Linked DNA regions of Homo sapiens. The protein of the gene in region 4 interacts with the protein of the main gene of each other region in a biochemical or structural test. Each region holds a gene or a part of one and is shown on either strand. Other genes may lie near its edges. The genes, in order: RPS6KB1, EIF4EBP1, AKT1 and MTOR.

Region 1 (5,987 bases), on a different chromosome or scaffold from region 4:
TAACATCTTCATATGGAGCCTGAATTTTCCTGTTTTTTTTTCTATTCCTGTCAGTAGGGTAGAATTTTGTTTGCTAGCATATCAGGCTCAATGGAATTCTGCTTTCTTGAAGTGTGTGCCTCACGAAATGGCTGGAAAGAAGTTAACGGGTCTAAAAATGAGGTTGAGGACGTGGGAGAGTGTACACATTGGTGGTTTTAGGTGTGCATCATTGTGTAGGTATGTCAGACTGAACAACCCCATTCTCTTGAGATACATGACAAAATGCCATTCTGTAGTCCACTGTTACTGTCTTTCAGGGTTTTACATATGTGGCTCCATCTGTACTTGAAAGTGTGAAAGAAAAGTTTTCCTTTGAACCAAAAATCCGATCACCTCGAAGATTTATTGGCAGCCCACGAACACCTGTCAGGTATTTCACACTCTTATTTTCACTTTTTTTTGTTTTTAAACAACCTACAAGAGTGTTTGCTTAAGAAGTTTATGCCAAGTTATATAAATGAAAGACTGTCATACTCTCTTTGGTTGACATAAGCACAGCATCTATATCTTACATTGCAAAGGACTAGTCTGACTAATCTATGATGTTATATGGTTTACCTTCCCTCCCAAAAGTAAGCAGCCATACTGGCAAATGTCCTCTTTATCCATTCACTCAGCATTTATTGTGCACCAAGAGCACCAGCACTACATACTGCATGTTATGTGTGTGTATCTATATAGTACTATAATACAGGAATTGTCCCTGTCCTGATGAAGCTTACAATTTAGTGGGAAAGTCACAATAGACAAAGGATATACAAAAATATAATTACAAGTAGTGCAAAGTGCTATAATTTAAAAGGGGAAAAAAAGAATGTACTGGTAGAGAGCAGAGGAAAAACAAGGGGGCTTCTACTCACAGTGATCAGAGAAAGGCCTCCCTGGTGTAGTAACATCTAGCAGTGAACGGAAAGAGCCAGCCCTACAAAAATAGGAGGTATAAGAATGTTGCAGGCAGAAGAACAGCAAATGCAAAAACCCTGAGGGAGGAGAAAAGTTGCCCTTTTCCTGGAAGTGAAAGGGAAATCAGTGTTCCTGGAGTGTGTGGTGAGTGAGGAGAAGGGCAGAGGTTTGGAAAAGTATTTTATTTTAAATGCAATAGAAAGCTGTTTTGAGCAGGGGAGAGTAAAATGATATATATAATACGCATTTAAATGTATATATATCTCATTGAGGGTTTTGGGGGTCAGGTGTAGAGGTAAAGAGACCAGTTAGGAAATTCTAGCAGTTAATCTAGGTGGGGGAGAGATGGTTCAATTTTTGCCTTTGTGCTAATCCACGTGAAAATAAAATTAAATGAAAATAAATGTCATGTTACCCCACTCCCTTTAAACGTAAAGGAAATATGTCTTGTTGAGATGACCCTTAAGCAAATGAATGATAGCTCTTCCTTGTCTTAAAGCCCAGTCAAATTTTCTCCTGGGGATTTCTGGGGAAGAGGTGCTTCGGCCAGCACAGCAAATCCTCAGACACCTGTGGAATACCCAATGGAAACAAGTGGCATAGAGCAGATGGATGTGACAATGAGTGGGGAAGCATCGGCACCACTTCCAATACGACAGCCGAACTCTGGGCCATACAAAAAACAAGCTTTTCCCATGATCTCCAAACGGCCAGAGCACCTGCGTATGAATCTATGACAGAGCAATGCTTTTAATGAATTTAAGGCAAAAAAGGTGGAGAGGGAGATGTGTGAGCATCCTGCAAGGTGAAACGACTCAAAATGACAGTTTCAGAGAGTCAATGTCATTACATAGAACACTTCAGACACAGGAAAAATAAACGTGGATTTTAAAAAATCAATCAATGGTGCAAAAAAAAACTTAAAGCAAAATAGTATTGCTGAACTCTTAGGCACATCAATTAATTGATTCCTCGCGACATCTTCTCAACCTTATCAAGGATTTTCATGTTGATGACTCGAAACTGACAGTATTAAGGGTAGGATGTTGCTTCTGAATCACTGTTGAGTTCTGATTGTGTTGAAGAAGGGTTATCCTTTCATTAGGCAAAGTACAAAATTGCCTATAATACTTGCAACTAAGGACAAATTAGCATGCAAGCTTGGTCAAACTTTTTCCAGCAAAATGGAAGCAAAGACAAAAGAAACTTACCAATTGATGTTTTACGTGCAAACAACCTGAATCTTTTTTTTATATAAATATATATTTTTCAAATAGATTTTTGATTCAGCTCATTATGAAAAACATCCCAAACTTTAAAATGCGAAATTATTGGTTGGTGTGAAGAAAGCCAGACAACTTCTGTTTCTTCTCTTGGTGAAATAATAAAATGCAAATGAATCATTGTTAACCACAGCTGTGGCTCGTTTGAGGGATTGGGGTGGACCTGGGGTTTATTTTCAGTAACCCAGCTGCAATACCTGTCTGTAATATGAGAAAAAAAAAATGAATCTATTTAATCATTTCTACTTGCAGTACTGCTATGTGCTAAGCTTAACTGGAAGCCTTGGAATGGGCATAAGTTGTATGTCCTACATTTCATCATTGTCCCGGGCCTGCATTGCACTGGAAAAAAAAATCGCCACCTGTTCTTACACCAGTATTTGGTTCAAGACACCAAATGTCTTCAGCCCATGGCTGAAGAACAACAGAAGAGAGTCAGGATAAAAAATACATACTGTGGTCGGCAAGGTGAGGGAGATAGGGATATCCAGGGGAAGAGGGTGTTGCTGTGGCCCACTCTCTGTCTAATCTCTTTACAGCAAATTGGTAAGATTTTCAGTTTTACTTCTTTCTACTGTTTCTGCTGTCTACCTTCCTTATATTTTTTTCCTCAACAGTTTTAAAAAGAAAAAAAGGTCTATTTTTTTTTCTCCTATACTTGGGCTACATTTTTTGATTGTAAAAATATTTGATGGCCTTTTGATGAATGTCTTCCACAGTAAAGAAAACTTAGTGGCTTAATTTAGGAAACATGTTAACAGGACACTATGTTTTTGAAATTGTAACAAAATCTACATAAATGATTTACAGGTTAAAAGAATAAAAATAAAGGTAACTTTACCTTTCTTAAATATTTCCTGCCTTAAAGAGAGCATTTCCATGACTTTAGCTGGTGAAAGGGTTTAATATCTGCAGAGCTTTATAAAAATATATTTCAGTGCATACTGGTATAATAGATGATCATGCAGTTGCAGTTGAGTTGTATCACCTTTTTTGTTTGTCTTTTATAATGTCTTCAGTCTGAGTGTGCAAAGTCAATTTGTAATATTTTGCAACCCTAGGATTTTTTTAAATAGATGCTGCTTGCTATGTTTTCAAACCTTTTTGAGCCATAGGATCCAAGCCATAAAATTCTTTATGCATGTTGAATTCAGTCAGAAAAGAGCAAGGCTTTGCTTTTTGAAATTGCAACTCAAATGAGATGGGATGAAATCCTATGACAGTAAGCAAAAACAGAACCATGAAAAATGATTGGACATACACCTTTTCAATTGTGGCAATAATTGAAAGAATCGATAAAAGTTCATCTTTGGACAGAAAGCCTTTAAAAAAAAAATCACTCCCTCTTCCCCCTCCTCCCTTATTGCAGCAGCCTACTGAGAACTTTGACTGTTGCTGGTAAATTAGAAGCTACAATAATAATTAAGGGCAGAAATTATACTTAAAAAGTGCAGATCCTTGTTCTTTGACAATTTGTGATGTCTGAAAAAACAGAACCCGAAAAGCTATGGTGATATGTACAGGCATTATTTCAGACTGTAAATGGCTTGTGATACTCTTGATACTTGTTTTCAAATATGTTTACTAACTGTAGTGTTGACTGCCTGACCAAATTCCAGTGAAACTTATACACCAAAATATTCTTCCTAGGTCCTATTTGCTAGTAACATGAGCACTGTGATTGGCTGGCTATAACCACCCCAGTTAAACCATTTTCATAATTAGTAGTGCCAGCAATAGTGGCAAACACTGCAACTTTTCTGCATAAAAAGCATTAATTGCACAGCTACCATCCACACAAATACATAGTTTTTCTGACTTCACATTTATTAAGTGAAATTTATTTCCCATGCTGTGGAAAGTTTATTGAGAACTTGTTTCATAAATGGATATCCCTACTATGACTGTGAAAACATGTCAAGTGTCACATTAGTGTCACAGACAGAAAGCACACACCTATGCAATATGGCTTATCTATATTTATTTGTAAAAATCCAAGCATAGTTTAAAATATGATGTCGATATTACTAGTCTTGAGTTTCTAAGAGGGTTCTTTATGTTATACCAGGTAAGTGTATAAAAGAGATTAAGTGCTTTTTTTTCATCACTTGATTATTTTCTTTAAAATCAGCTATTACAGGATATTTTTTTATTTTATACATGCTGTTTTTTAATTAAAATATAATCACTGAAGTTTACTAATTTGATTTTATAAGGTTTGTAGCATTACAGAATAACTAAACTGGGATTTATAAACCAGCTGTGATTAACAATGTAAAGTATTAATTATTGAACTTTGAACCAGATTTTTAGGAAAATTATGTTCTTTTTCCCCCTTTATGGTCTTAACTAATTTGAATCCTTCAAGAAGGATTTTTCCATACTATTTTTTAAGATAGAAGATAATTTGTGGGCAGGGGTGGAGGATGCATGTATGATACTCCATAAATTCAACATTCTTTACTATAGGTAATGAATGATTATAAACAAGATGCATCTTAGATAGTATTAATATACTGAGCCTTGGATTATATATTTAATATAGGACCTATTTTGAATATTCAGTTAATCATATGGTTCCTAGCTTACAAGGGCTAGATCTAAGATTATTCCCATGAGAAATGTTGAATTTATGAAGAATAGATTTTAAGGCTTTGAAAATGGTTAATTTCTCAAAAACATCAATGTCCAAACATCTACCTTTTTTCATAGGAGTAGACACTAGCAAGCTGGACAAACTATCACAAAAGTATTTGTCACACATAACCTGTGGTCTGTTGCTGATTAATACAGTACTTTTTCTTGTGTGATTCTTAACATTATAGCACAAGTATTATCTCAGTGGATTATCCGGAATAACATCTGAAAGATGGGTTCATCTATGTTTGTGTTTGCTCTTTAAACTATTGTTTCTCCTATCCCAAGTTCGCTTTGCATCTATCAGTAAATAAAATTCTTCAGCTGCCTTATTAGGAGTGCTATGAGGGTAACACCTGTTCTGCTTTTCATCTTGTATTTAGTTGACTGTATTATTTGATTTCGGATTGAATGAATGTAAATAGAAATTAAATGCAAATTTGAATGAACATAAATAGAAGTGATTTATTTTTTTATTATCTTAAAGATAGGAAGGAATTAGTATACGTATCAGGTGTATAAATGGTTTAAATTTATTTTAACATGTCAGATGTGTTCAAGTTGTCATATAAATAAACTATGTATGTAAGGAATGGGTTAAAAGCTGTTCTGCTGAGAAACTGAAGCTATTTAAGTATATAACAAGTTTTAGTATTGATTTTTAAGTTAGATGTTACACATCTTTGATTTTCAAGTTATGTCAGATAGTAGATATGAATTGTTTACTTAAAAAAATACATGTAACAATCTACGTGAAAGCTAGCTTCATAAAAAACTCTAGGAAGACCTTCTTGTGCTAACAATCAACAATCTGTTCAGCTACACTTGGTCAGCTACATTTGATAATTTGATATGTATGCACAAAATAACGTAGTGAACAAATGTGTTTTAACTAATGTCTCAATATATCTAGTGTAAGCTGGGTATTTTGCATTAACCACTTCTTTTCTGTGAGGTAATTATACCACACTTGCCAAGGGGATTTCTCTACAGAAGCTCTCAAACTGATCTTACCTTGCTATACAACATAGTAGCCTATCAATACTGGTAAAACAATCTTTTAGAAGCCATGATCTGAATTCACAGAGTAAATGAGTTTCTGAATCTACATTACCTGTTTTT
Region 2 (6,877 bases), on a different chromosome or scaffold from region 4:
CCACGATTTAGAGATCAAAGTTTACCTGGATGGAGCCATCTTTTTTTTTTTTTTGCTAGACTCCAGAGATCTGAAAGGTGAGGGAAGTTATGTTTCACTAATTCCTGAGTACTCAGAGTGTGGTATGTGCACCAATCAGTCAGAGCTAGTTAGAAATGCTGAATCTAGGCCGGGCATGGTGACTCACGCCTGTAATCCCAGCATTCTGGAAGGCCGAGGCAGGCAGATCACTTGAGGCCAGGAGTTTGAGACCAGCCTGGTCAACATGGTGAAACCCCCGTCTCTACCAAAAAATACAAAAATCAGCTGGGCATGGGTGGTGCATGCCTGTTGTCCCAGTTATTGGGGAGGCTGGGGTGGGAGGATTGCTTGAACCCAGGAGGTGGAGGTTGCTGTGAGCTGAGATTGCGCCACTGCACTCCAGCCTGGGTGATAGAGTGAGACCCTGTCTCAAAAAAAAAAAAAAAAAAAAGAAAGAAAGAAAAGAAAGAAATGCTGAATCTAGTTCCCACCCCCACCTACAGAATCAGAATATGCACTTAAATGAAGCCCCCAGTTATCCTCAAGCACCTGGAAGACTGAGAGGCAGTATTCTGCTCTGGAGCAAAAGGGTGTGACCATTTTGGCTGCAATGTGACCATTTTGGCTTCTCTGCCCTGGCAGAGGTGGGCTGAGGTGGGCTTTGGAGGAAGAGTCCACACCTTGGCTAATCGAGGCCGACCAGGCTTGCTTGACTTTAGTGGAAGTCAGCCAGGTTTCCCTGGCTTAGGGACTGTGAGCTGTACCTGCTCCACTGGACGACCAAACAGTGAGCTGGCTTTAGGCTCCTGGCACTGCTAGCTTCTTCCAGTGATCTCAGAAACATATGCTATGCCCTGATGCAGAAGTCCCTTCCCCACTCCCCCTACTGCTAAAGACCTTCAAAGGGAAGGGGATTTGCTGTGGTCTGTCAGCCCCCTGCCCACTCCCCACTTCCCAACCCAAAGTGAAAAGTGGATTTGAAGTTCCTATATTTTATATTTATTATTTATTTTAGAGATAGGGTCTCGCTCTGTCACCCAGGCTGGAGTGCAGTGGTCAATCATAGCTCACTACAGCCTCCAACTCCTGGGCTCAAGCGATCCTCTGGCCTCAGCCTCTGTAGTAGCTAGGACAACATTTTGTTGTTGTTTTGTTTGTTTCTTTGTAGAGATGGAGTCTCACTATGTTGCCCAGGCTGGTCTTGAACTCCTGGCCTCAAGCAATTCTCCTGCCTTGGCTCCCCAAAATGCTGGCATTACAGGTGTGAACCTTGGTACCCGGGCCAGAAGTGCCTATAAACAGTATCCTGGCTTCCAATTTGACCCAACAATCCAGCAATAAAGAGTGCAAAAAAGGGCTACCTGCGCCTTCAGGCCGGCCTCAGGGCCCACCCTGAACAAATCCAGCAGACACTTACACCCTCATTTGAAAGAACTCCAAAATTGTCAGGAATTGTCCTGGTAGACCATTGTGACAGAGACAAAGGAGAACAGCATGGACTACAAAAGACCCAGCAAGGGAAAGAGGATGAGTCGGGAATGGCAACAAGAGCCCCTGCGAGCTTTTCCTTGGCTCATTTCTAATAGAAAAGGAAGCATTTCTCCCTTCTCTGCCTGGTTGCTATTTCTTGTCCAATCTGGGAAAACGGTGTGACAATGGGCAACAGACACGTGTTCAAGCTCTGGGGCCTCAATGCCGGGCTCTGTAGAATAAGACGGCAGGGCTGGACAAGATCCCTAACCGTTCTAACAGTGTATGTTTTGGATCAAACAGCAGAGGACCTCGGATCTGGCCGCGCTCGCTGCTGGTGGGACAGCTGCCTGAGAAAATAAGCATGTGGCCCCCGCCCGCCACCTAGCCAAGCGCCAGGATCTGTCGCGTTTTCTAGTAGTATGGAAAGCAGCGTGGAGGAGAATGAAGGGAGAGGAGCAAAAAGGGGTGGGGGCAGTGCGACAATGAGAGGGGAGGAGAGAGCCACGAGGATTTATTTCATCATGCAAACAGGCGCGTAGGTTTCATCAGCGTCTGTGCGCTGGGGCTCCGGGGCTGGGAGGGAATGCCAGGTTCCTGAGGGCAGCCCGAGGCTGGCCCCCCCACCCGTGCCAGCTCAGCTTCCTCTTCCTCATCCTCTCCCAGGGAGGTCACACGGTGCCTCCTCCTCTCCCCGGACAGAAGAACGTGTTTTTCTGCACAGCCCTGGCCGTGGCGCCAGGGTCCCCCCCGCGGAGATCCCACTCGCGTAAATGGGGAACGTGCCACAGGTGCCCGGGAGGCGCTGCTGGAGCAGGCAAGCACCCCCAGATCCGAACCTCAGTCAGAGCGCGCGAGTCCAACACAAAACTCGGCGTGCTTCGGGAAGGAAAAAGGGCCCTGCAGGAATCGTTTATCCCAACAGATAATACCCATCCCATAAAAACACCAGGCCAGGCCTCTCCTGGATCGTGGGCCACCCTAACTCCGCCCTCTCCCGCTTCGGGAGCGCCCCCAACACCCACAAGGGGCAGCACAGCTCGGCATGTGGCTGTCCTGGAGGCGTGCGTGTTTGTTAGGTGTCAGCTGTCTGACACCTAACAGAAAGAGGAAACAAACGGGGCAGTTTGTAACTCGGGTCTGGAAGACGCACTCAGAGGGGAAGCGGGCGGCCACTTCCATGACCCTCGCTGTCTCTCCGATGCCCCTTTTCCGTTCTTTCCAATCACGGCGCCCTTGAGCCTGGACACCCGGTCCAATCCGCGATTCCCGATCCTCCCGCCCGCCCAGGAGCCGGCAAGCGGCGTCGCCAAGCCCGCGCCTACCTCCCGGGGTGGTGCTGAAGAGCGTGCCGCCGGGGGTCGTGCTGTAGTCCCCGGGCGGGAGCTGCACGCCGTCGCCGAGCACCACCCGGCGAGTGGCGGGGATGGCCCGGCTTGGGGTCTGGCTGCAGCTGCTGCCCCCGGACATGGTCTCCTGTGCGCTGCACCCGCGAACCTCTCGCTGCCCTCCCGCGCCTCCAGCCTCGCTCCGCCTCGCCCCGTGCCGCCCCGCCCCAGGACGCCCCTTCCGCCTCTCCCGCCCCACGCCCCTGGGATTTGTAGTCCGCGCCGCAGCCCCACCCAGCTCCAGGACGCTGCTTCCACGTGGGATCCCCCGCCGCCCCCCGACCCACTCCCGTCTGCTCACGGGCTCTTCCGCACGGGCGCTGGCGCCGCCCCGCAGCGACTGCCCCTCCGTCCGGGGTCCCTCCCCGCCACGCTGGCAGGGACGGATATGGGGATGGCGGGCGGGATAGCTCGCCTAAATTAATCCTTGGCTGGGTTGGGGGCGGCGACTCAGGACCGCGCGGAGATCCGAGCTGACCCGGCCCACTGCAGGAAGGCCCGGTTTCTGCATTAGGACATCAGGCCTGGTGTACCCTTCGGCACTCCCTGTTTCGTGCCTTAGTTCCTCAGATGAGAAAATGGGGATTGAGTAGTTATGCTCACCGCCCCCCGCCCCGCTTCAATTTCTTGACCTTGATGGGGGTGGGGGTGGAGGGGCTAACAATTCCGTTCCCGGCCTTTAGAGAGGGTGTGGGAGGAGGAGTGAACCAACCAGCGGCGTCCTGGGAGCTAAATTTAGAGCTGGGGGCGCAGAGGTGGGTGGTGGGGAAGGGCGTTGGAGAGGAGTAAGAGTGTCGAAGAGGTTTCCCGATAGCCCCTGAATTGAGTCCAACGTCCACCTGAGGTTTAGTAGGTACTCCTTGGATGGATGGATGGATGGATGGATGGATGGATGGATGGATGGATGTTCAAGGGGAGAGAGAAAAATGCAAGAAGGACCGAGGATGGAAAAGCTTGTTGGGTTTGAGAAGTTCTTAGCATTATGGGCACATATTGTGGGGAAGAGGGTGAAGAGGGGAGGGCAGTTTAAAAGGGAAATTGGGTGGTGCACCTGTAATCCCAGCTACTCAGGAAGCTGAGGCTGGAGGATGCTTGAGCCCAGGGGTTTGAGGCTCCAGTGAGCTGTGATCACACCACTGCACTCCACCCTTTGTGACAGAGACCCTATCTCTAAAAAAATATATAATAATTTTTTAAAAAGGAAATTGGGGTCAGGTCGTTGAGTTTTTCAAATTATGCCAAAGTGCTTGGACTTTGTCTTAGAAGGGCAGGAGATATCAGAGATCTTTTAAGCAGGGGGATGACATGATTTGAGTTGTTTTTTGGAAGGATAACTAGTAGCCAGTGGAGTTTCAGAATGGGCCAAGGAGGGCAAGGCCTGAGATAGGGAGACCTGTTGAGTTTGGTCTCACTTTTGAGGGAAACTTTAGGCCTACAGTGGCTAAGACAGTAGCCACCAGCTACAGGTGCACATTGAGCACTCCAAATGTGACCAGTCCAAACTGTCACAAGTTTAACATACACACCATATTTCAAAGACTTAGTGTGAAGAAAATCATGTAAAATACCTGAATAATTTGTTTCTATATTGATTGTATGTTGAACTGATAATATTTTGAGTATACTGGGTTAAGAAAAATACATTATAAAAATTAATTTTGGGCCAGGCGCAGTGGCTCACGCCTGTAATCCCAACACGTTGGGAGGCCGAGGCAGGCGGATCATGAGGTCAAGAGATCGAGACCATCCTGGACAACATGGTGAAACCCTGTCTCTACTAAAAATATAAAAAAAATTAGCTGGGCATGGTGGCGCATGCCTGTAGTCCCAGCTACTCGGGAGGCTGAGGCAGGAGAATTGCTTGAACCTGGGAGGCAGAGGTTGCAGTGAGCTGAAATCATGCCACTGCACTCCAGCCTGGCGTCAGAGCAAGACTCTGTCTCAAAAGAAAAAAAAATAAATTTCGGCTGGGTGCAGTGGCTCACGCCTGTAATCCCACCACTTTGGGAGGCCTAGGCGGGTGGATCATGAGGTCAGGAGTTCAAGACCAGCCTGGCCAAGATGGTGAAACCCTGTCTCTACTAAAAATACAAAAAAACAAAACAAACAAACAAACAAACAAAAACAACAGACCGGGCACAGTGGCGGGTGCCTGTAATCCCAGCTACTCGGGAGGCTGAGGTGGAGAATTGCTTGAACCTGGGAGGCAGAGGTTGTAGTGAGTAGAGATCTGCCACTGCACTCCAGCCTGGGTGACAGAGTGAGACTCCGTCTCAAAAAAAAAAAAAAAAAAAAATTAATTTCATCCAGGTGCTGTGGATCACACCTGTAATACCAGCACATTTGGAGACCGAGGTGAGCAGACTGCTTGGGCTCAGGAGTTTGAGACAAGCCTGGGCAACATGGTGAAACTCTGTCTCTACAAAAAAATTTAAAAATTAGCCCAGTGTTGTGGCTCACACCTGTGGTCCCAGCTACTTTCAAGGATGAGGTAGGAAGATGACCTGAGCCCCAGAGGTGGAGGTTGCCATGAGCCAAGATTGCACCACTGCACTCCAGCCAGGGCTCAAAAAATAAATAAATAATATAAGATAAAAATAGACCAGGCCTTGCTGGTTGCAGCGATGTGCACTTGTAATCCCAGCCCTAGCTGGGATTACAAGGCCAGAGGATTGCTTGAGGCCGGGAGTTCAGAGACCAGCCTGGGCAACATAGTAAGACCTTGTTTCAAAAAAGAGAGAGTTTCAGGCCGGGTGTGGTGGCTCACGCCTGTAATCCCAACACTTTGGTAGGCCGAGGGGGGCAGATCACGAGGTCAGGAGATTGAGACCATCCTGGCTAACACGGTGAAACCCCATCTCTACTAAAAATACGAAAAAAAAAAATTACCCGGGCATGATGGCAGACGCCTGTAGTCCCAGCTACTCGGGAGGCTAAGGCAGGATAATCGCTTCAAACTGGGAGGCAGAAGTTGCAGTGGGCTGAGATCGTGCCACTGCACCCATCCTGGGTGACAGAGCGAGACTCCATCTCAAAAAAAAAAAGAGTTTCACTCTGTTGCCTGGGCTGGAGTGCAGTGGCTAATTATAGGCACAATCATAACTCAGTGCAGCTTCCAACTCCTGGGCTCAAGCCATCCTCCCACCTCAGCCTCCCCAGTGGCTGGGATTACAGGTGCATGCCACTGCACTTGGCTAATTAAAGAAAAGAATTTTTTGGCCGGGCGAGGTGGCTCATGCCTGTAATCCCAGCACTTTGGGAGGCCGAGGCAGACAGATCACCTGAGGTCAGGAGACCACCTGGCCAACATGGTGAAACCCTGTCTCTACTAAAAATACAAAAATTAGCCAGGCGTGGTGGTGTGTGCCTGTAATCCCAGCTACTCAGGAGGCTGAGACAGGAGAATCACTTGAACCCAGGAGGCATAGGTTGCAGTGAGCCAAGATCCTGCCACTACACTTTAGCCTGGGCAACAGCAAGACTCCATCTCAAAAAAAAAAAAATTTTTGTAGAAATGAGATCTTGCTATGTTACCTAGGTTGGTCTCAAACTCCTGGCCTCAAGTGATCCTCCCTCCTCAGCCTCTTAAAGTTTTGGGATTACAGGCATGAGCCACTGTGACTGGCCCCTCTACCTTTTTCTAGAGCAGGAACTCATTCATATGGAAAAAACAGCTTTTATCTGAGGAATGGGAATCCTTTTAAATTATCAGGCCTAGACATTAAAATGAGACAGCAATCACGTCCCACTACCCCCTTTTGAGCTATGTATTCATCTCTTGAAACTGCTTGCTATTGTCACAAGTAGCCATAAATTAACCTATTAATAATAATGCTGCACTAAAGACTATATAGGGTGTGGACACTATAACTTAACAGTGTATAGCCAAGGCTGGGTGCAGTGGCTTACTCCTATGATTTCCACACTTTGGCAAGCCAAGGTGAGAGGATGGCTTGAGGCCAGGAGTTTGAGACCAGCCTGGGCAACAGAGAGACCCT
Region 3 (7,820 bases), on a different chromosome or scaffold from region 4:
TGAGGCCACGCCTGGCTAAGGGCAGCTCCTCGCCCTGGGTGAGCCAGAGACCCACTGCACGTGCCTGGGGGCTCCACCCGCACCTGCCTTCCCAGGTGGGCTGCCATCCCTCTAAGCTCTCTGACCCCCATCTGCCCGCCTGCCTTCCCTCTCCCCAAAACACTCAGGGCTGCCAAGTGTCAAATCCATGTAATTGAACACAGTTCCCTGGACCTGGGCCTCTCCTTATTCTAGGCTTAGAGCCTCCAGCCCCTGCCACCACCACCCGCAACAGCCAGGCCCTGAGAGCTGCTGCCTTGCTCACCTCCCCATTCCCACCTCCCCCAGCCGTTGGACAAATCACCCCCATCCCCAAAAGGCCTTCCCAGCCTCCCTAACCTGATGCACCAGCTGACAGGCTGCCTCCTCCAGGCAGCCCCTTTGACTTCTTTGACCCAGGCTGGCTCGGCCTTCCCTAAGCCCCTGGTGACAGATGGCCCCGTTTGCTCTCCCTGTCCATGGTGTTCCTACCCATGGATCCTGGGACAGGGCACAGGGCTCCTCCCTGCTCCCCAGACTAGGAAAGCAAAGAAATTCAAACATGAGGAAGACAGGACCAGGATGCAGGCCACTGGCGCAAACGGGAGTCCAGAGCCCTCCAGCGCAAGCCCAAAAACCTCCTGGGAGAAACCCCAGGCCCCTCCTAAACCACAGCGCCCCTGCCGGTCTGAATCTGGTTCATTCATTTGGCCAACATGTACCGGGCGTCTCAGGTTTTGCCAGGCCCAGTGCTGGGCGCTGGAGACAAAGAGAGGTTCAGACAAGTCCGTCAGTGAGGAGCACCCAGTCCAGGGTGGTTACAGACCCATAATTACAGCAGTCGGGAGGCAGCAAGTAAGTGGGGGAGCACTGGACAGGCCCCCGCCCTGCAGCGGCCCACCAGCCAACCCTCACCTGAGCACACTTTATCCATTGATCCTGCATGGCTTCCTCATTTCCCCTCTGATGGATGAACTCCTAGGCATCCCTCAAAACCCAGTTCCCACATCACCAACTACAGGCATCCCCAGAAAGAGCACTTCGCATGCTCTTCCTGTGAGCAGTCCTCTGCTACCCTTCCAGATGGGCCTTCCTGAGGGGAGGAGGGTCCTCTCTGGGACCTCCAGGCCAGGCAGAGACCCCTGACGACCTCTGTGGAATGGATCCCAACATGGGTCTTTCCACAGCCAGCTTAGACGCTCTCCCCCCAGGCCACCTTTCTGGCCTCCCGAGGCAAGGGCTGGACACCCACAAAGGGTTGCTTTGCACTGATTGTCTTAAGCTACACTTAGAATGGCAGGAAGGCCCACTGCCTTGTGTCTAATGCCAGGACAGGGAAGACCACACCTTACCCAAAGAGGGAAATGCCCCAAGTACTTAGCAGGATGGAAAGCAGGCCAGACTCGAGGAAGGCACCGCAGGACTCCGAGGGCAGGGCTCCGAGCCGCGCACGCCTCAGGCACAGGGGGCTCTGACGACACTGAGTGGGCGTGGCCTGGAGGCAGAGGGCTGGACTCAAAGACCTCTGGATGTCCCCCCACCCCCACACGGGCCTGAGCCCCTCCAAGGCCTGCTGCTGACAGAGTCAGACAGCTGTCCAGAGCCATGTGTAAAAATACATCTGTGCTCACACAGGGTGGTGTACGTCTGCACAGAAACGTATACACCAGGCCAGCACAGGGCTGCCTGTGGGGGCGGAGGGACCCCGACTTCCCACAGCCTCCGTACCTGCCGCCTGCCTTTACCATAAGCACATATTCTTGCTACTATTATTAAGTCACAACTTAAAAAAAAATACTCTGTTTTCGAAAGGGCTCCTCCATCTGCCTCCAGAACCCTGGTGTATGAGAAGTCTACACAGCTCCCGGGAGAGGCAACCGGACCCCCACCAACGGACTCCGTCCGCCCTTCGCTCGGATGAGGGACTCAAAGCAGTCAAGAAGTGGCCACCTGGAGCAAGGCCGAGAGACCCAGGAGTGAATGTGGGGCGGCCTCTGGCTGCAGAGCAGGGGCCCAAGCTCACCCGCTGACCAAGGCAGCACTCAGAGGCCGTCCCGACAGGACCAAGCTCGCTAGCGCCCCAGGATACTCAATCTAAGGGGCAAGCCCCAGCTGCCCTCCAAGCCTTGGCCTCTGGGATGGGCGGGCAGGACCTCCAGGGCCCACCCAAGACAGGAAGCAGTTCCGGGGCCCAGGAGGGTCACAGTCCTTTGTGGCTAGCCTGGGTACCCCGCCACCACGTACAACTTTTCGTCCGTGGGAAACGAAGTCTCCTTCCGGGGCCCTCCCACAAACTTGAAGGCCGGCCGCGGCGAGTCTTTCTCCAACCCCGGGGCACCTCCGCCGGCTGCCTCGCTGGCCCAGCGCCCGGGGAGCCCCACGGCCCGCAGGGGCACCCCGAGCCCCAGCTCCAGGCCCGGCGGCGTCCCTTCTCTCGGGTCCCGGCCTCGCCCGGCGGAGCGGCCTCCCCAAGGTCATGAGGGAGGCTGGGGCCGGCAGCCTGCACCCCCGGCGCCCGGCGTGGGGCCGCCCTCCCTTGGCCGGGCCCGCGCGCCCCGCGCCCTCCCCGCCCAGGCCCGCTCGGCCACTTCCTGCTCCCGCTCCTCCATTCTGGCGGCGCCGCGGCTCGCGCCCCGGCCCGACCGGCCGCGAACAAAGCGGCCCGGCCCGCGGGGAGGAAATCCAGGCCCGGGCGGCCACGGCGGGCGGGGACTCACCGGGCCGCCGCGTCCGGGCGCGAGCGCGGGCCTAGCCGGGCCGCGGCCTCCGGCGCCCGCCGCTCCGCATCCCCGCGGGCCGGCGCTGGGCGGGGCCGGGCTGGAGGCCGCGGCGGGCGGGGGCGCTGCTCGGGGCCGGGCCTCGCGTGCCGCCGCCGCTCGGTGCCCGGTGCCCAGCGCTCGGTGCTCGGCCGCCTGCTCCCGTCTTCGGGCCGCGCTGCGTGCGCTGGGCCAGCCGCCTGCCGCGCTCGGTCCTGCCGCCGCCGCCGGCCCGCCCTCTCCCCGCCCCGCGCCCGCCCCGCGCCCGGAGCCGCCCGCCCACATCCGCCTCCGCCGCCCGGGGCGTCCCCACCGCGCGGCCGGCGGCGAGGGCGGAGCGCGCTCGGGGAGCGCGCGGCCGGGCTGAGGGGCAGCTCCCGACGACCTGGGGCCTGGGCTGGGCCGCTAACGGAGCCCGGCCACCAGCCAGCCCGTCCCGGGGCCACGCCCTCTCTGGCCTCAGTTTCCCCGTCTGTAAAGTGACCCGGCGCTTCTGGGCTCGCTCTGCCGTGACCCTAGCAGAAGGGGCCCGAGACAGGTCAGGGACGAATCCCGGACTTCTGCCTCCGCGCGCGGGGCGGGGGTGGCTTAGGTTGACTTTCAGGCTGCCCCACTCTGGGGGGCGTGGAGGGGGCGGCCAAGAGTGACCTAAAAGGCCCAATCCCAAGACCTTGTGCCTCTGGGGGAAGTGCGGGAGGATGCCAGGACAGGAGGTCAGTTGGAGGTGGGCCTCCAAGGAGCAGGAAGGCTCCGAGGGGAGTCAACCATTCACCTAGGTACTGGCAGCTACACTCACAAAAGGGGGACTTTGCTGGGGAGTGGGAGAAGAGGGGCACACCTTGCCTGGCTCCCACCTTGAGCTGGGAGCAGACACCAGACAGAGGAGGAGCGGTGTCTAGGGTGGGCTGTGACAGCTGACAGCCCAGAGCCCTCCCTGCTGGGTGGACTTGGTCAGCCCGGACACCCAGTCCGAAGTCCACTGGGAGGCAGATGGCCCGGGTATGGAATGAGTAAGTGGGACACAGACCCCTTTCTCCTGGACACTCACAGGAGAGTGCAGGTGACTGCCACCCCGACCCCTTCCTAGCCAGAAGTTCCTCCGACAACTGCCCCTCCCCCATTCCAGAGGCCCACAGTTGATAATAACCCTTTTGTGAAAGACAGACTCTTGTGAGTTACCTTCCTGAGGCTGCTAAGTATTGGGGTTGGGGGAGCATTTTTATTTTCAGCCAGAGTGAGTTCAGCTGGCAGCAGGGGAGGGGGTGGGAGGAGATGCAGACAGAGGCAGCAGGTTCGGCCCAGTGCTCAGGACAGAGTCTGCAGCCAAAACTCGGGCTTCATCCCTGCCTCTTGGGGCTGACCAAGAGAAGGACTCTCTCCCCCTGCATGAGGGCACTCGCTCCTCAGACAGGGGACTCCCCATTCCTGCCTCTCGCCTGAGCACCTCTGCTCCCTCCCAGCTCAGACTTTGTAACCCCAGGAAGGGCCCACCTCCAGGGGGCCAAGTCAGAGGCCCAGTGGTCTGCGCCGCTTGGGTGGGATACCTGACACAAGGGTTGCCCCCAGAGCCTGGGCGTCTGGTGTCTGTCTCTCACCCAGCAAACCTGCACCATGAGCCACCTGGGGCTCCCTCTGGGACTGTCCCACCTGCCCACTGCTCCCCGAGGAAGAGTTCCTGGTATCTGTCCACCATCCTGGGCTCTGCCATGCAAGGATGGAGGAAGGAATTCAGGGAGGAAGCAGAGGGTAAGAGGGCCATGAGACAAGGCCAGCAAGTGGCCGAGGCTTGGGGATGTGGGAGGGAGCAGGGCACCCTCTCATGGAAGAGGCAGTGACATTGCGGGCTGTTCTTGAAGTGGTTGGACCTCTTGCTTATTTTGCACTGGCTGTCTCCAAGGAGGCCTCCCAGTCTTCCCAGCCTGGTGCCCTGGCATCTGCTGGTGCCTGCAACCCACTGTGGGCCCCACACTCCAGTCCTGTCTTCACCTTGGCATGAACTGCCCTCCCCCAAGACGGGGATCTCCCAGTGGGCAGGGCCATCTCCCTCTCCTCCAGCGTCCCAGAGGGAAAGCAGAGTCCTCTCTTCAAGAACACCCCCTCCCACCCCAGACAGAATGGTCAGGAGAGAACCCAGCCCCACGGCTGCTGCTGGGACTGCTGAGGTGCTCTGTGGCCAGATGTTTCCGACAAAAACTGCTGCACCAGGGAAGGGCCCGACGGCTGCCTCCTCCCAGAGCTCAGGGGCCTCCTGCCCTGTCACCTTCTGCAGCTGCTGGCCGGGGGCAGGACTCGAGGGCCCTGGGCTGTGTAGGTCCCAGCAGCAGCTGCAGGGCGGGGCCTCAGGGCAGCTCCCAGGCCAGATGGCCGCCTGAGTCTGCAGAGGTTCTGCCTGAACCACCACCGCCGCGACAGTGGCTGTGTGACGGTGTCCTGTCATTCCTGCACTTGAGACCCAGCCAGTCACAGGGGCTCTGAGGACTACAGGCTGGCCAGGATCCCAGCACCAACTCTGGGCGGTCTCTGCCTGGAACAGCCCCCCTTCCCTGATCGGTGTGGGGCAGGAGGGACTTGAACCCAGACATCCCGACCTGAGAGGGATAAGGAGCTTCTCTCCCACTGTCCCCTCCCCTTCATCTAGCCCATTCCTAGCTGGGCCCTCCTTCCAGGTCCTACCCTAGGCTCCTGAAGGCAGCATCCTGACCCTCCCTGTGTACCACAACCCCCATTAAGTGTCCAGGCTCTCTCTGTCCCGCCAGCCAGGCAGGGCAGGCTAGGGTGCTTGCTCCCAGCCTGCAGTGGGGAGCTGTCAGCCTGTTGCCCAGAGCCCCAGTGTGGCAGGCCACCCCTACTTGCTCTGAAGGTTCAGGGGCTGGGGGTGTGGGCAGGCAGGGCTGGAATGTTGCCACAGAGGAGTCAGGATTAGGGATGGTGGGACCATCGTAATCACTCACAGAAGCAACCGTCACACATTCACTCAACAAACATTTACTGAACACCCACTTGCGTCCTGCCAACTTTTAAGCACCAAGTGACCAAACAGCCCCTTCCCTTTCAGAAGGTGCTGGAATATCCCACAATCACAGGACACCCGGAATGGGCTGGAAAGGAGGGTATGCAGCAGAAGGGACTGCGAGGGAACTTAGCGAAGGTGGGCAGGAATGGCCACCCTGACTAAGGAGTGGACTTTCAGCAGAGACAGGGATGAAGAGAAACCAGTGAAGGGTTCTTTGGGGAAGAACATTCCAGAGCCTGAGAGCTTGCTGAGTGCCAGGCCCTGTCGTTAATGTTCACGAAGACCCCGGGATGCACTCTGACTCCCATTTTGCAGATGAGGATTACTGAGGTTCAAAGAGGTTAAAGGTTTGGTCGTGCTCAAGGTTGGGAGGGGCCGGGGCAGGGCTGTGATCCAGGCAGGGCAGGAAGGGAGCAGTCACATCTGAGTTCACCCTTAACTTACTTGAATTCAGCTATTCCTGCTGGTGGCTGGGGCAAGGCAGATGATTATTTAAATGCGTGGAGAGAGGGGAGTTGACCTTCCTCAGGAAGGGGTCCTTAGGGTGGATGGCCGGCGGCAGTGGGAGCCAGGCCTCTGCCGTCCCTAAGCTAGTCTCAGTGGCTGTAAGTGCAGTGTCATTCCAGGGGTCCAAGCTGCAGTTGCCAGGTTTAGGAAATAAAGATGCAGTCCATCCGGTGAAACAAGGAATGATATTTTAGTATAACAACGAGGCCTTCCTTCCCAGACTTCAGATCCCACTGTGGGCTCCACTCCTCCTGCACACACATACCTGGCCGGGTCCTGTCCTTTGTGATCCAGCCCCTCTTCCAGCACCACCCCCACCCCACTGCTTGGCCTTGACTGGGGTGACTCCTCCACTACATTCTCCATTTCCCGGACTCCAAGGCAGAGAAGAATGAGACCGGCTGAATTCAAATCGTGGTTCAGTGACTTACTGCCTGATACATGGCTCTGGGTACCTTACCTAAACTCTCTCACCAAAAAGGTATGAAAATAAGAGCGTCTAGTTAATGGGACTGTTGTGAAGATGATCCGGTGGTCTAGAGTACCTTCAAACCTGCTCAGTCAAGGGCAGCCCAGGTTGTGCCCCTGGGAAAAGGCTCCATCTGCCTGGGAGGGACCCTAACCCCGCCAAACACACTCTCTACTTCTCTGGCGATTCCCTCTCCCACAACCAGGCGTCCCCCTCACATCTTCTCAATGCTTCTTTGCCCTAGAACACTTTCCCCCACTCCTCCCTACCCCCACTCCCATGCCAGCCCCTGTCCGGAGTCTCCTCCTCTTTGAACACGTTCCTGCCTACCCTGGGCTCTGGAGGGCTTCCGACTGTCTCTGTTATGGCGTTTGTCCCCCCGTGCCACCATGTCTGCTGGGAGGTGCCCGTTTTCCGTGCCTCTCTGCGCTGGGTCCCCCATAGACGCTGGGCTGGGGTCTGTGGAGAGGGTGGAAGTCCCCGTTCTGGACTCTAGGATCGACATCCTGCTTGAATGTTTGGAAGAGGGTCCCAGCTGAATTAAATTCAAAAAGAGGCTTTCAAGGAAGAAGGAGGTGTCATCTTTGCAAAATTAACGACCCCCAATCCACGCAACCCCTACGCCATCCCAAGGCCGGCGCCCTGCGAGGTGGCGGGAGGCCAGGGTCCCGGGTTTACCCTCGGGTGACTGCCCAACGCGGGCTGGGATACAAGCGGACCCTCGGAAGGGTTCCTTTTGCAGACTGGCGCAGTAAGGACCCCATGCCGGGAAAGGTTGGGAGGTGGGGGACCCAGGCCAAAGCGCCAAGTATCGCGAGAGACCCCCTGCCCCCGCGCAGTGCCCTAAACCCCCCTCACACCCCAGCGCCCCTGCTGGCTGCGCGCGGGGCCCGGCCGGGTGGGGCGGACAGGGAAGGGGGGGCGAGGGTGACCTCAGCGGTTCCGCCGCTCCGGGAAGTCGCTCGGCCCGCCCCCTCCGGCCCCCGCCCCGAGTTTCGCTCTCTCTGGGGCGGGGCGAGCGGCGGGCGGCGCTGGGCCAGCCAAGTTGGAGCGCGCC
Region 4 (7,033 bases):
GAGTAGTGGGAATGGCAAGCAGTAATTTCAGAAGAGGGAAGGGGTCTCAGCCAGTGTAGGAGGGAGAAGTGGGTGACAGAAGTGCACAATGGTCCTTACCCATAAGTGTCAATTTCCGGGGCCTCTGCTTGGATGTGATGACTTGCAAAGACGGTGCTATGGACTGAATGCGAATGATTGGCTGGTTGGGGTCATATGTTCCTGGCACAGCCAATTCAAGGTCCCGGCACATCAGAAGTTTTGGGGAAACATATTGCAGCTCTAAGGATGTGAGCTGTAAATAATTACCAAAGGATTTAGTGTTCTGCCTCCAGGGAAGAATTTAAACGCAATTTAAGTATTTTTCAGTGGATTGCTAATAACAATTACTTGTCCCAAAGCAGAAGTAAAACCAGATGCTTTGGAATGAGTGTTAGAACATTCATAGACAGTAAAACAGAAAGGACTATAATGACAGTTAACCCTGCCAGGAGCCTGAAGATCCTACCTGAGGCAGCTGCTTTGAGATTCGTCGGAACACATGATAATAGAGGTCCCAGGCTTGGGTGAGGTCCTTGACATTCCCTGATTTCATGTACTTCCTGCACCACTCTTGGGCCTCCATTAAATCTCGACCATAGGCCTGAGAGAGAAAGCAGGCACGTTTTCAAGTTATCAAAGTCTCAACCAACCCAGGAGGCAAAATCCCCAGGCTGACTGCAGATATTCCTCAGGAGCCCGCTGTGGCCTGAAAACACTGGCAGGGGGCTGGAGAAAGCAAGAGCATAGGTGCAGGCCTCCAACCCTGGAGCTTCCAAACCAGCAGCATGGCTTATAGGGAAGGAAGGGTGAGAGGAGAGACGAGATGACCTCTTGAGAAATCTTGGGCTTTTCCAGTTAAAATTCAGAAGGGTCCCTGTAACTAATTTCTGATGTTTTATGCTCTGTGACCTCCATCAGAGCTCGTTTTATTAAAGTCAGTGGAAAGGCCAGAGGAAAAGAAATCTGACAAAGGCCTTGGGTCACGTCCTTTCATTCTATAAAAACTTTTCTCATTTCATTTTTTTTTAGTGGCAGAATATTTCTACAGGGTTATGTCCTTTCGTGTTTTTTACCCCATACCTGATTAAAGGATGTTTCCTTCAGAGTCTGGGGGCCCCGTTCCATCATAGCATGCAAGGGCTCCAGCACCTCAAACATGCCTTTCACGTTCCTTTCCCCAAAGTACAAACGAGATGCCTCTTCCAGGCCTTCATGCCACATCTCATGCCAGAGGATGGCCACTCGGATCAGCTCCTCGCTCACCTGAAGCCAAGAGAAGAAGGAGAGAAGCATCAAGAATCAGCTAACCTCAGAAAGGTCTGTTTTGGAGACACAGGAGGTACTATTTCCAGCAGTCAGAGGAAGTGCACAGCACCAATGCGAGGAAGAAAAACAATCCCACTTGCGCCCACCAGCTAAGGGACCAGGGTCTATGAAGCCCCACAGTGGCTCCGACCCACCATCATGGCCTGCTGGACCAGGGTGTTGCTGTGCTCACACATGTTCTTCAGAATCTTGTTGGCTGCATTGTGCCGGGCTGTCGTGGTAGACTTAGAAGCCACTGTCAGTGGGTAGATGAGGGCCTGAGGGAAAAACAGAAGAAACATCTATAAAGGAAATGTGGGTTGGGGAAGAGCTGGTATGAATTTTAAGGAGAATAACAAAACAAGTGGTGAGTGTGACATTAACATCTGCTTGAGACTACCAGGAAGGGGCTCAGTCTTCGAGGGAACGCTTTCTTTTTAGCAAGGCTCCCGGGCCCTCTGGGACGGCTGGCTGGACAGACCCTCCTGGGCCAGGATGGAACACATGGCTCCCAGTTCCTGCGCTTGTGTCGCCAGGGCAGCTTTTGGAAAGGCTGACCACCAAACCAGTGGTTAGATGAGAAACTGCCCAGAGTCTCCACATACCTGGGGGTGGTACCGACCAATGTCTGTGAGAAGCTGGTGAATGAGACGTCCCACCAAGGGTCTGGGCGTATCAATTCTTGCAATGAGCTGAGGTATAACCTGGTATTCAAAAAGACACAGTATGTAGCATATGAGACTTGAAACAACTAGTTATTCTTCTAGGCAAAGATCAATTCTTTTAACTTGTTTCGGTTGATGCTCTGAAATGGTTCATTCCCTTCCCTTTAGTTTCTAAAAGAAAATAAAGAAAATATGGACACTTGACACTGGGACCGAGCCCTACTTCCTTAGCACTGTATTAACACACACTGCCTTGTGACACTGAACACAGCATGCTTGTAAGAGGAGACACACAGAAGAGAGACTTGGAGCCACCTTCACCTGTAACCAAGTATCCTCACCTGTAGCCAGGTATCAATCTGGATGGCTTTCACCCCCTCCACTAAGGCCTCATTGACATCTGGCCAGTGACCATAATCAAACCATAAGGTGAGAACTCTGAAAAAGAAATGAGAAAGTCACAGAAAATTTAGTTTCCCAGTTTTTGCCTGCCTGTTTTTCATCTCTAAGGCTCCTGAGAAGAGAGCTGGCAGGGACTCCAACCAGTAACTCTCAAATGTGTTTGGCCTCCCATGGGAGCAGGTGTCTGTGATGGGTGGCAGTGCTCTTGACTGAACACCGTAAGAGTCACCCTGAGCAAATGAGCATTTCATCCCAGGTCACCGAGGGGTCACCATGGCATGTATGCAAACATCAAACAGACGAGCCAGGATAACCTTTAGAAAGCCACAAGTCTGCACATGTAAGAGTCGCTGTACGGCAGAGGCAACAGGGACACCTGGCTCTTAGCTGGCTGGAGATCCTCAAATGAAGGAGGATGTGGACCTTGTCACCTTTACCCTCTGGGTTAACTGATTTGAGTCATTTGTTTAGACCTCTCCAAGTTGCTGAGGGATTTTAGAAATACTGTGACTTCAATAGGCAACAGGGTGGTCAGAAAAAAAGAAATATTGTGATTAACAGATGGGTTAATAATCCCTCCATAATAAACCACACATGGAGAGTTCTCACTCCACTTCTCCTCCTCACTCTCTGTAGGTTTCACCCACACAGGTGGGGCCCAGTCAGCTGTTACTCCTTAAATGCAGTGCAGAAAAAAGGCACATACATCGATCTTGGGTGTCCTGATCAGGGTCAGGAAGGGAAAGAGGACTTTTACGTGTGACTTCTAGGTCTTGCCATTAACATGGCCTACCAGAGTTGCATCCTTCCCTTCTCTGATACCTGAGTGTATCCTGGAGGTTGTTGCCTCGTGACAAGGAGATGGAACGGAAGAAGCCCTGGACGGCAGGCACCGTGTACATCAGGAGGGTTTTGGACAGATCCTGTTGGAACACACACGTGTTAGCGACACTCTTGCCTCTGCTTTCTCATCTGTAAAATGGGCATAAGAGCATACTAACTGTACCTACTTCAAAGGGTGGTTATAACAATTAAATCGGTTAATGCATGAAAAATCTTTAATCATTACCTGGCACATAGCAAAGACTCAATAAATGGCAACTGTATCATAACTGTTATTATCTTGGGCTGACAGTGGCTTCCTGAACAGGATGGAGGGAGGAGGTGGAGCTGAGGCTCTGAACACCCGGATCTCTGGGCCTGCCAGCGGCCCTGGCGCATTCTGAACTGACAGCCCAAGGGGAAGGGGAAGAAGTGGAAGTGGAGAGAAAAAGGCAGAGGATGGACCTCCCAAGCCCCATCCTCAGAGTGGACCCGCAGCTGTGTACAGCCACCCACACACAGGTGCAGCACGTAGAGAATGAGCTCGTCCACAGGGAAGCTTGACAAGGAGCTTGCTCTTCAGCATAGAGGCTGCGTCAGCTCCCCAAACACAAATATTCACACACAAAGCCCTATCTCAGGCAGTGCTGGATGGTAGATAGGCAGTATTTTCCAGCTCCATCTGGCACTTCAGATACAGCCTCAGGTTCCTTTTAAGCTTAACAACGATTCCATTTCTCAGAGAGCCTGGCACCTTGGTTGGTTGTTAATAAGGAAGAAGGGAAGGGTACCTCAGTGACCTTCTTCTGCAGCGGCGATGGGGTGGGGCTGTTCTCGGTGCTCTCGGCCTCGCTCTCACTGTTGCTGCCCTCGGTGCTGGCAGTGGTGGTGGCAGTGGCGGCCGTGGTGGCGGCAGTGGTGGCGTTGGTGATGTTGGCCCCGCTGGCATGACGCAGTTTCTTCTTCTCATCGCGGGCTTGGTTCTGATGTTTGTAGTGTAGCACAGCTTCGAAGTTCATCACTGCCCACGCATGCCAGGCCTGGTTGGGGAGAAAGGCAAGGACAGACACTGGAGCTGTGACCAACAGCAGGGCTCAGAGGAGCGCAAGGTCGATGCTGAGGAACAGCTGCTCCTGCCTGTTCTGTGTGTCCATAAAGCAAACACTTCAAGGAGACACTCAGAAATGGCTGTTTTACTAAATTCAACATGATCCACTCACTTTGTGGAGCACTAACTATATAACGTACTATGAGTGCACTGCGAGAAGGGCACAGCAAGAGGAGCAGGAGAGAGCTCTTGCCTCAAGGGATCTCCCGGCCTCCTAGGGGAGCTCACGCACAAACCTGAAGACCTAGGTACTCTGCAAGGCACAATGGGAGTAGCAAGGACAGGCATTTGGAAAGCTTTGTCAAGAAGAGGGATTTGGGGTAGGTCTGGAAGAGAGCTGCAGAAGGGCAAGGAGGGAAACAAGAAGGCAGCGGTGGGGACTACTTGGCAAGGGGGAAGAATAAGGCCAGAGATGTGCAGATTGGTTCACGGGAAACAAGCCCATGAATGTGACCGTGCAGGGGATACATGCAGGCGAGGAGTGAGAGCGAGGCCAGCAAAGCACGCCTGGAGCAGGCACAGGGCTGGCACTTTCACCCAGAAAGCAGAGCTGCACTGGGTATAAAGTGTACATTTAGGGGAGAGCAGAAATGGCAAGCAGAAGTGGGGGCAAGCAGCAGTCATCACAATATTTCAAGGGAGCAAAGTTTTGACAGGTCACCAGATAGTGGACAAAGGAAGACATGAAGAGCATAGGAGCCTGACAGAGAAAGAATCTCACCCATCTGCCTGGTCCCAACACCTAGCCCACGGCCTGACAGAGAACCAGTGCTCAATGCTTGAAGGAAGAACCGCTGGTGCTTATTTGGATAAAGGAATACTACTCTCTCTGGGGTTCTGAGCGGCAATGACTCTACAGCGTACCACCACTTGGTTTAGCGAGTGTGAGGCAGAGTTTGCTTCCAGGCATGGTAACTTTGCAGTGATAGTAGGACACTACGTGACCCATTAATAGCTGAACTTTCTGAATAATTGGGAAATTCGTTTGTATGCCTTGCCAAAAACCTTGAACACAGGTGTATCCGTTTTCTCAACTAAGGAGAATAGATTGATCACAACTAACCTTTACTTGATGAGTAAGAATTCTACAATGACCCAGGTTTCAGTTTTCCCATACCTTCATTTATTCACTGAATATCTCTTGTGTATCTGCTATGTGCCTGGCAATGACCTGGGGTCAAGGTGAACAAGACAAACAGTCCTGGCATGCATACAGGGCCATGACGTTGATGGTAGAATACATCATAAAACAAAAGGGACCCACATTAGGAAAAGCTTTTAAAAACTAAAACTAAAGTTCCTGAAACCAACTTTTTTCTTGTGATTTGCTTACTTCCTAAAAGCTTAATGAATGAAAGTAACTCTGGTTAGAATACAACTCTGATTAATAAGCTTCCAGTTAATAGTGTTTACCGGATGTATTTTCCAGCTTTGGACATGCAAGCTGTCCTAGAGAGAGTATTACTCTTATGACAAAATGGACATTTTTCAAACCAGAATGAAGCATGCCTAAACAAAGGTAAGATCTGTATTATAAGTGCTTCTGCAGTCCTCAGATACAAGTTTAGATTTCAGAGAGATTAATTCACAAAGTATTGGCAAGCCAAGGAAATACTGGAAAGATGTCAATGACATCTGCCACACCAAGTAGTTACCAGAAAGCCTCTCAAAAAGAAATAAGAAAGTATATTCTCACCAAAGATATACACTTCCAAAAATCACCCCTCCATCAATCACATCTTTTATATATTTTCTAATTCTGTTTATCTCTTTCAAAAGTTTCCTGTAACATAACAGGATGTTACTTGGATCTTTCCAATAAAAACAAAGAAAGTTAAGTTCTTAGCTGAGGAGCAGGCAAGGATGCAAATCAGAAAAACGCTGAACAAGAACAGATGACCTAAGGGAAGATGTCACTCCAGAGATTAACCATGTGTCCAGATGCTCCCAGGAAAACAAGCAGCTCAGAGTCTGTAAGACAGCAGCAATCCCCAACACCACATACACATAATAATGGTGTAACAAGTATTTCTCCAATAATCTTTCTGTATTAATTAAACTTGTAGGGGGAAATGCAGGCTCCCTGGGCCTCTTATAGATAGGCTCCAGGGACTCAAGGAGTAAGTTCACAGCATCAGCCTAGCTCCGCAGAAGCTCAGCTGTAACCACGAGCACACAGGAGGACACGAGCCAGCCAGGGTGCTGGGTCTCACAGGTGGCCTGCTTCTGATCACCTTGTACCAGCTGCGGTCGTGCTCTGTGGCGGCGCTGTAGTACTGCAGCACTTTGGGGATTGTGCTCTCATTGATGCCCTGTAGATTCAGCTGCCACTCTCCAAGTTTCAGGAAGCATCTGGAAGCAGAGAAACAAGCCCCCATGACATTCCCTCCTCAAAACAGCCCTCCTAAGAGGACCACAAATTGTTAGGGGACACTGAAGCCCTTCTGGTATTTCCTCTTATTCTCAAGAGGCAATGTGAAGGAGCTAGCAAAATTTTCAGCCACACGCAAGAAAGGAGATGGGCTTTTGGAATACATTTTTAAGATACCATCTTTCCATCTTGACCTTTGTCTCTCAATGACAGCATAAACCATGTACCTGGTACAGATAGGTCTGTATGGACTTACCTACCCCAAACCCAATTTTTTGTGGGTGACAGTTGAGAGTTACTTCTTTATTGATTGCTATATGGCTTCTCCCTTACTTTTCC

The links.
Region 1: of the proteins of MTOR (region 4) and RPS6KB1, one has a biochemical effect on the other in vitro, tested with the Homo sapiens proteins (18 studies listed by BioGRID and IntAct, with this or other methods).
Region 2: of the proteins of MTOR (region 4) and EIF4EBP1, one has a biochemical effect on the other in vitro, tested with the Homo sapiens proteins (29 studies listed by BioGRID and IntAct, with this or other methods).
Region 3: of the proteins of MTOR (region 4) and AKT1, one has a biochemical effect on the other in vitro, tested with the Homo sapiens proteins (19 studies listed by BioGRID and IntAct, with this or other methods).

The regions. Positions count from the first base shown.
Region 1 is NC_000017.11:59,945,107-59,951,093, forward strand, and holds the end of RPS6KB1 (ribosomal protein S6 kinase beta-1), read left to right. Parts: intron 1-299; coding exon 300-412; intron 413-1,444; coding exon 1,445-1,682; 3' UTR 1,683-2,480; coding exon of another isoform or gene 2,481-2,496; 3' UTR 2,497-5,468; downstream 5,469-5,987. UniProt on the Homo sapiens protein: Serine/threonine-protein kinase that acts downstream of mTOR signaling in response to growth factors and nutrients to promote cell proliferation, cell growth and cell cycle progression.
Region 2 is NC_000008.11:38,026,658-38,033,534, reverse strand, and holds the start of EIF4EBP1 (eukaryotic translation initiation factor 4E-binding protein 1), read right to left. Parts: upstream 3,002-6,877; 5' UTR 2,962-3,001; coding exon 2,817-2,961; intron 1-2,816. UniProt on the Homo sapiens protein: Repressor of translation initiation that regulates EIF4E activity by preventing its assembly into the eIF4F complex: hypophosphorylated form competes with EIF4G1/EIF4G3 and strongly binds to EIF4E, leading to repress translation.
Region 3 is NC_000014.9:104,792,749-104,800,568, forward strand, and holds the start of AKT1 (RAC-alpha serine/threonine-protein kinase), read right to left. Parts: upstream 3,001-7,820; 5' UTR 2,736-3,000; intron 2,460-2,735; exon of another isoform or gene 557-2,459; 5' UTR 379-556; intron 1-378. UniProt on the Homo sapiens protein: AKT1 is one of 3 closely related serine/threonine-protein kinases (AKT1, AKT2 and AKT3) called the AKT kinase, and which regulate many processes including metabolism, proliferation, cell survival, growth and angiogenesis.
Region 4 is NC_000001.11:11,126,523-11,133,555, forward strand, and holds part of MTOR (serine/threonine-protein kinase mTOR), read right to left. Parts: intron 6,676-7,033; coding exon 6,558-6,675; intron 4,256-6,557; coding exon 4,007-4,255; intron 3,317-4,006; coding exon 3,216-3,316; intron 2,430-3,215; coding exon 2,333-2,429; intron 2,031-2,332; coding exon 1,932-2,030; intron 1,605-1,931; coding exon 1,482-1,604; intron 1,285-1,481; coding exon 1,102-1,284; intron 623-1,101; coding exon 488-622; intron 275-487; coding exon 100-274; intron 1-99. UniProt on the Homo sapiens protein: Serine/threonine protein kinase which is a central regulator of cellular metabolism, growth and survival in response to hormones, growth factors, nutrients, energy and stress signals.